2 linked regions of the Homo sapiens genome follow. The protein of the gene in region 1 interacts with the protein of each later gene in a pairwise test. Each region holds a gene or a part of one and is shown on either strand. Other genes may lie near its edges.

The links.
Region 2: the proteins of SMAD5 (region 1) and SOX5 interact in a two-hybrid assay, tested with the Homo sapiens proteins (one large-scale study listed by BioGRID and IntAct).

What each region holds. Positions count from the first base shown.
Region 1 is NC_000005.10:136,153,345-136,156,844, forward strand, and holds part of SMAD5 (mothers against decapentaplegic homolog 5), read left to right. Parts: intron 1-247; 5' UTR 248-416; coding exon 417-819; intron 820-3,500. UniProt on the Homo sapiens protein: Transcriptional regulator that plays a role in various cellular processes including embryonic development, cell differentiation, angiogenesis and tissue homeostasis.
Region 2 is NC_000012.12:23,939,671-23,943,170, reverse strand, and holds part of SOX5 (transcription factor SOX-5), read left to right. Parts: intron 1-3,500.

The DNA of each region.
Region 1 (3,500 bases):
ATAGGAGGTAGAGCAACCTGGTTTTGCCTCTGGTTATCATTTGACATTGCCAGTGTCTTACTTGTTCATATTATGGGGAAGGAATCGAGTGGTCACAGAACTTTTGGAGAAAATTTATCAATTTTTTGTTTACTTTGTAATGCTTTTCTGTTCTTATTTAATAAAATATGCCTTTCGATTATATTAATTTAAATTTGTATATATTGAATTGATTTAAACTAGGATCCTTTCCCCCTTTCTCTTTCAGGACTTGACCCAATGAAAGAAGCATATGGCACTTGTGAAGATAAATGTTACTCCTCCCTTTTTAATTGGAACTTCTGCTTAGGACCTGTGTATGACGTTTCACCTGTGATCTGTTCTTTCGGTAGCCACTGACTTTGAGTTACAGGAAGGTCTCCGAAGATTTGTGTCAAATGACGTCAATGGCCAGCTTGTTTTCTTTTACTAGTCCAGCAGTAAAGCGATTGTTGGGCTGGAAACAAGGTGATGAGGAGGAGAAATGGGCAGAAAAGGCAGTTGATGCTTTGGTGAAGAAACTAAAAAAGAAAAAGGGTGCCATGGAGGAACTGGAGAAAGCCTTGAGCAGTCCAGGACAGCCGAGTAAATGTGTCACTATTCCCAGATCTTTAGATGGACGCCTGCAGGTTTCTCACAGAAAAGGCTTACCCCATGTTATATATTGTCGTGTTTGGCGCTGGCCGGATTTGCAGAGTCATCATGAGCTAAAGCCGTTGGATATTTGTGAATTTCCTTTTGGATCTAAGCAAAAAGAAGTTTGTATCAACCCATACCACTATAAGAGAGTGGAGAGTCCAGGTAGGTCTTATTCCTGAGAAGAATTTGGAAAAACAAAAACAAAAAACCTCTCTTCCTGATATGCATGTAACTAGATTTAGTAATGAAAAGGTTGTATTAGCTTTGTGTTTCCATCTTAAATATTCTAATCTTGGAAGGGCTATTGGATTTTGAGTTTAGCTTTTTATATGTAGGTGATACAATTCTCAGGTGGCTTACTCTAATTCATTATTCACTGTAAGCACCCATATATCTACTCTGCCTTTTCCTGTGGATGACCTGTCTCTGTTTTATTTAAAGCCTAAGCTCCAAGTGTGTACTATATCCCATTCCTTTTTGTCAAATGAAGAACTTTGTTCCTACAGTTATCATCCTTCTCTCCAGCATTATATTTTCCCTTTCTACCAGAGTATTTCTGATAGCATACAAGCATGCCATGATACTACCCATCCTAAAATAAAACTTAAAAAAAAATTCTGCTTTTCACTTCATTCACATAACCCAACCCCAATCACTGCACTGTTTCCACTGGTCCTTTTAGAGGATTCTCCATTTTTATTATCTTTATGTTTCATTTTTTTCTTGTGACTTCTCTAGTTAGTCTTTCTTTCCTACCATTTAACTTGTCGAGATCACTAGTGACTGCCTTTTTATAGGTCAAGGGGTCATTTTTGAGTCTTATCTTACTGTCCGCTCAACTGCATTTGATACAGTTGATCTCCTTCCATCCTACTCAAAACTTTTTCTGTGTTTGGCCCCTAAGACAGTATGCTATCCTGGTTCTCCTACCTCACTGACTGTTCTTGCCCCTCTTTGCTGGCGTATTCTCCTGTTTTCACAGGAGTCAGTCCATGGACCTTTTCTCCATTTATATTATTTCTTTATGTGCTTTCATGCTGTCACATGTCTTAAGATTGTCTATAAGCTGATGCTCACATTTTGAACTCAAGTCAACTTCTCCCTTGAGTTTTAGATTTGTGTATCCAGTTGCCTACTTGACATTTCCACTTGAATATTTATTTATTAAACATACCAAATGTAATATGTCTAAGCGCAGTTTTTTTTCTCTGGTTTCCCCTATTGAAGTGAATGGCAACAGCATTCATGTAATTGCTAATGCCCTAAACTGCAAGGTCATCTTTTATTCTTCTTACTTAAATCCTATATTTAAAATATGAGCAAATGCTGTTTGCTGCACCTTCAAAATATGTCTTAATAAATATGTCACCTCTCATCATTTGTGACATCACTACTTTAGTACAGTACATCATCATCATCACTCACCTTAAGTAGTGTCCTAATTGGTCTTTCTGCGTCTCTTCTTCCCCTTAACCCATTGTGTTTTCCACACAACAGCCAGAATGATTTTTTAAAAACATACTAAATCATGTCAGTTCCTACTGAAAACACTTTCAAGGCTGTCACACTTAAAGAGATTTCTGTAAGACTCTGTATGACCTATCCTCAGAGTTCTCTGTTCCTTGGACTTGCCATACTCCTGTTTCCAGGCTTTAACTCTTGCTGTCTACTTATTCTCCCCCAGGATCTTTCCATGGCACATTTTCTCATTCCATTCAGTCCTTGCTCAAATATCCGCATCACTAATTGACTCTATATTAGATATTTATTTTGTTTATTGACTGACATGAGCAGAGTCTTCCTCTATTTCATTCATTACTCTATCCTTAGTGCTTAGAATAGTATATTGTTGTCTGGCACTTGGTAGGTGATGCTCAGTAAATTTTTTTTATAATGAATGGTATAAGCTGAGCTGCTAGCTGAGTGCATTAGTCATCTATTGCTGCATGACAGATTGCCACAAACTTAGTGGCTTAGCACAATGCATGTTTATTACCTCACAGTTTCTTTGGGTGAGGAGTCCAGTCACATTTAGCTGGGTCCTTTGCAAGGCGCTGTAATCAAGGTGTTGGTTAGGGCCAAGGTCTTATCAGAAGCTCAATTAGGGAAGGATCTGCTTCCAAGCCCATGTGATTGTTGACAGATTTAGTTGCTTTCACATAGCCTTCTTTATAGGTAGTTCACATTCATGACAGCTTCTTCAAAGCCAGTAAGGAAGAGAGGGTCTTCTGGTAAGAAGGACATTATATTCTTGTGGAATGTAATCATACATACGCTGTCACCTTTGCCATATTCTGTTGGTTAGAAGGAAGTGATAGGTCATACTCATACTCAAGCAGGGAGAATTACCCAATGGTTTGAATACCTGGAGGTGGGAATCACAGTGGTTACCTTAGAGTCTATCTGGGTTTCACGTGGAGATGTGTGGTAAAAAGACTGAAAATAACATTGGATGTGGAGACTAGTAGAAAGGATAGCAGATAGCAGTGATTATGCTGTCTGTGAAAGTTCAACTTAAGAGCTTTAGAGTGTCTTTAGACAGTTGGTATGATATGATTCTCAGTTTCTTACTGAGTCCAAGGAAAGCTGATAGCTGAAGGAACTGATGAAGAAAGGAAGATAAAAGGATTTAATAGAGAAGTATAGGCTGAAAAACTCCCAAGCTTGCTATTTGCTAGGAGGGAGTCTAGGAATTTTATGTATTCCCCTATAGCCAAAGTGTGACTAGTAGTCAGCCAGCCAATAGAAATGTCTTATTTTTTGTATACATTTTTCTCAGCTATGATTCATTCTATAGAAAAGACTGGGGCATAGCTCTGATACTTTTAAATAACGGAAAATTT
Region 2 (3,500 bases), on another chromosome or scaffold:
CATTTGTGAATGAGTTTTGGTTTCTTGGAGTTATAAAATGTGTGTAAACTAGTAAACCATGTCTCATTCATGTGCTATGGAGATTTCTCGTACTTCAGGGACAAAAATAATTTGGCTACTAACGAATTAGGGCTACCTGCCAGTGCCAACACATAGTGTAGGTAAGAGGAACACTATAAAGAAAAGCTGCTGGCAGCAAATCCGTTGAAACTTTCATATGTAACAGCGTTTCTATTTCTGCTCTTCACATCTTTGAAAGAAAGTGTGTTTTAGAAAAGAAAATGTTAAAAAACAGAAGATATGATCTTTCTTAAAAATGTATGTGTAGCTCCACTTTAATATTTCTCATTGTGGAGATGCATGGGGTTTCATTATGTCCTATGCACTCTTGGTTCCCCTACCTTTCCCAATCAATTCTGTCACATTGACCAACCTAAGGATCAGATGCATTGAGAGTAAGTGTAATAGAGAAGAAATGAAATTCACTGCATAGAGCCAAAAAAAAAAAAAAAGCCTCAGAGCCTTATATGATTTTGATATTGGCAGTTTAAGGGAGTTAGATCAATTGGGACACTGAGCAGCAATTTTATAAAGGATGTGTCCTCTCATTCAGGGCTTCAGGAACATTTTCAAGAAAAGAAGGGAAAGAGTTAACCTGTGTTGCCTGTTGTTAATTTCTTAGTGTAGGAGTAAAACAAGAGGTAGACCCAAATCATGTTTTCTTGTCATATTTTTAATCAAAATTTATTTCAGAATGTTGTCAGTGTTTACATTAGTACTGAGTTTGCCTTTTTGTTTTTGTTTTTGTTTTTATATTAAGTACAATTGAAATACCAGGGAGATAGGTTGTTTGAACACTGGTTGTGAAACTTTTACATAAGATCTTTCACGTACCATTTTAAGCTATTTTATATTTATCTAATAAAAGATCATCCTAATGAAAAAGAAATACGACACTGAAAATGAGAAATATTCCTTCACCTAGGAGAACACAAGATAAAAAAGTAATACTTTATTATACTATTAATTTTTCAGTCACAGTTAATTAGGTTGCTTGACAAAGTTCTAAAACACTTTTATTCTAATTGCAAAGTTAAAGTATTATTTGTTTGCCTACAATTCTTCCTTTGGTTATTTGCCCTGGGCCAGTGTTTGTTGGGCAATGGTTTTCAAAGTCCAAAGACTTTTTTTTCACTGCTCTCCTGAGGTCCCTTTGTCATTTTTTTTTTTTTATTAGCTAGTGAGTTTCATAATATGTTTGAAAAGAGGTTGCAGGGGGATGTCACATATAATTCAGGTTAATATTTCCTTCCTTTTTTCTTATCTGTACTCTAAGAGGTCTATGTTGGAGATTCGTTAGGATAAGGTATAGTATTCATATTATTTAGTGTAGAACGGAATGAACTGGTGCTCAAACTATTCAGTTTAGTATGCATTCACTAATTCAACTTTGATCTTGAGTGATAACTGAATATAAAATATCAGATTCAGATTCTTTGTCATCTATGATACAGCATTATCTATTATTATATTTTATGTAATATACAAAGTACCAATAGTCAGGCAGAACACCTAGGAATGGTAAAAGAAAGATAACTATGAATGCTATTCCTGAGAGTAGAACTTCTGTTTTCCTCCAGTCCTAAATATAACTACAATTTGGGAAATAGAGGAAAAGGTATTATTTTTAGGACCCTAAGGATTATGATATATAAATATTTATAGTACAATTATTTCTAAAAATGTTAGCATTACTTGAAAAATAATATGGATCTAATTTGACCTATAAACAGTTTAAGAACACTTAGTGCTTTAAAAGCATTCTTCTAGAGAAATAAAAGCATATCCAAAAGATCCTGATAGCAATTTAAAGAATCAAAGTGATGGGGCAACATATTTGGACTTTTATAAGTAAATTAAAAGATAATTGGAAGTCACTAACAGGTATGTGCAGGATTATTTTAGGGAATATAATAGTTATACGTGTGTGCACATGCAAAAGTTAGAAAGCCAGGAGAAACTTTTTCATTTATAGGGCAGTTGATCTCTTGAATGAATCCTGCCAAATTCTAATGAAGCTGCAGTTTTTTCAAAAAATCTTGAAAGGAAGAAACATTTCATAGAAATACAAACAAGGTTCATTCCCGTTTTCTTGTTTGCAGCTCAGAATCCTGTGGCATGTGCTACAGGAACATATAATAGTATTCCATCTTGAAAAAATTGAAGGTGGTATTGTGGTGCATATTTAATGGAAAATTTGAACCGAAGACGTTGGGTGAATCAAGGTATGCTTGAGTAACATTTGGGGATATTTGAGGTTTTAGGTTGAGATAATATGAAAGTTGAGTGTTCAGGGTCTAAAGCATACCTATCAAATGAATGAGTTTGTGTGTGTGTGTGTGTGTGTGTGTGTGTGTGTGTGTGTAATACTTATCTCCTCTGTAAATAAAATAATTTCCTCTTCTAGGTTAAGATTTATATTTGCCAGTATCTTCATTGATTCTTTTGGAAATGTAACATAGTACAAAGCGCTATTAGCTAGATGTTAAGATCTCAAGTTCTAGTTCTTCTTTAAAAACTGAGACCTCTTTGACTCTTAAGAGTATGCATCTGTAAAATTAGAAGATAGGATGGATAATTTCTAAAATCAGTTAACTCTAAAATTTCATTACTTTGAACTACATTTGCAGTGTCCCTAGCTCCTAACTCTAGTGGTCAGAATTCTTGCATTTATGTAGCTATTTGGAGATTATCTCTATAGCCAGCCTTTACATATAGAAGCACTTCAGTTTACCTGTCAATTAGGTATCATTACACAGGAACAAGCAGCCATGGTGTCTCTTAGGAGTTTTTAATCTAAATACCATGTATAATTCTTATTTAGGATTAGGTGCCCAACTTTGCTCTGAGCTATTTGAAGTGTTTCAAAAGATAAGATTCACATTCTATGATCCTGAAACTCTCAGGCATCAGATCACTATTCTGAACAATTATAAATATTGTAAAAGATAAATTATATATGGTTAAATGAACAAGACACTATGGGGAAATATGAAAAGCATACGAGTGGCACTTTAGGTCAGGGATCTAAAAGTCTGTTTATAAGGATAAAAGAAAAGAAAAAATATGAAGAATCCGCAGGAGAGCATGAGTACAGCACAGGGGCTATGGACAGTATATGTCTTTATATGAATAATTAAAACATTGGGCTGGAAAGTAGCAAGATCAACTAAGATTACAAACATGTAGTCCAAAGAAAAATTTTGAGTGTTTCTCAAAATAAATAACTATTAGCATTACCAGGCCAGCCAATTTGATATGCATTATACTATAGTTGCTAGTTGGCAATTTCAAGAAAAGAAATGTTAAACTCTGCAAAGCAAGGGAGTAGAGCAAAAAGCAATGAAGTATGCATTTAAAAAGCTGTATCGAGAGAACAAGCTTCATATATTGTTAATATATTTGGCAGGTCGCATGCTGTTTTTTTAATGCAGTGTTGG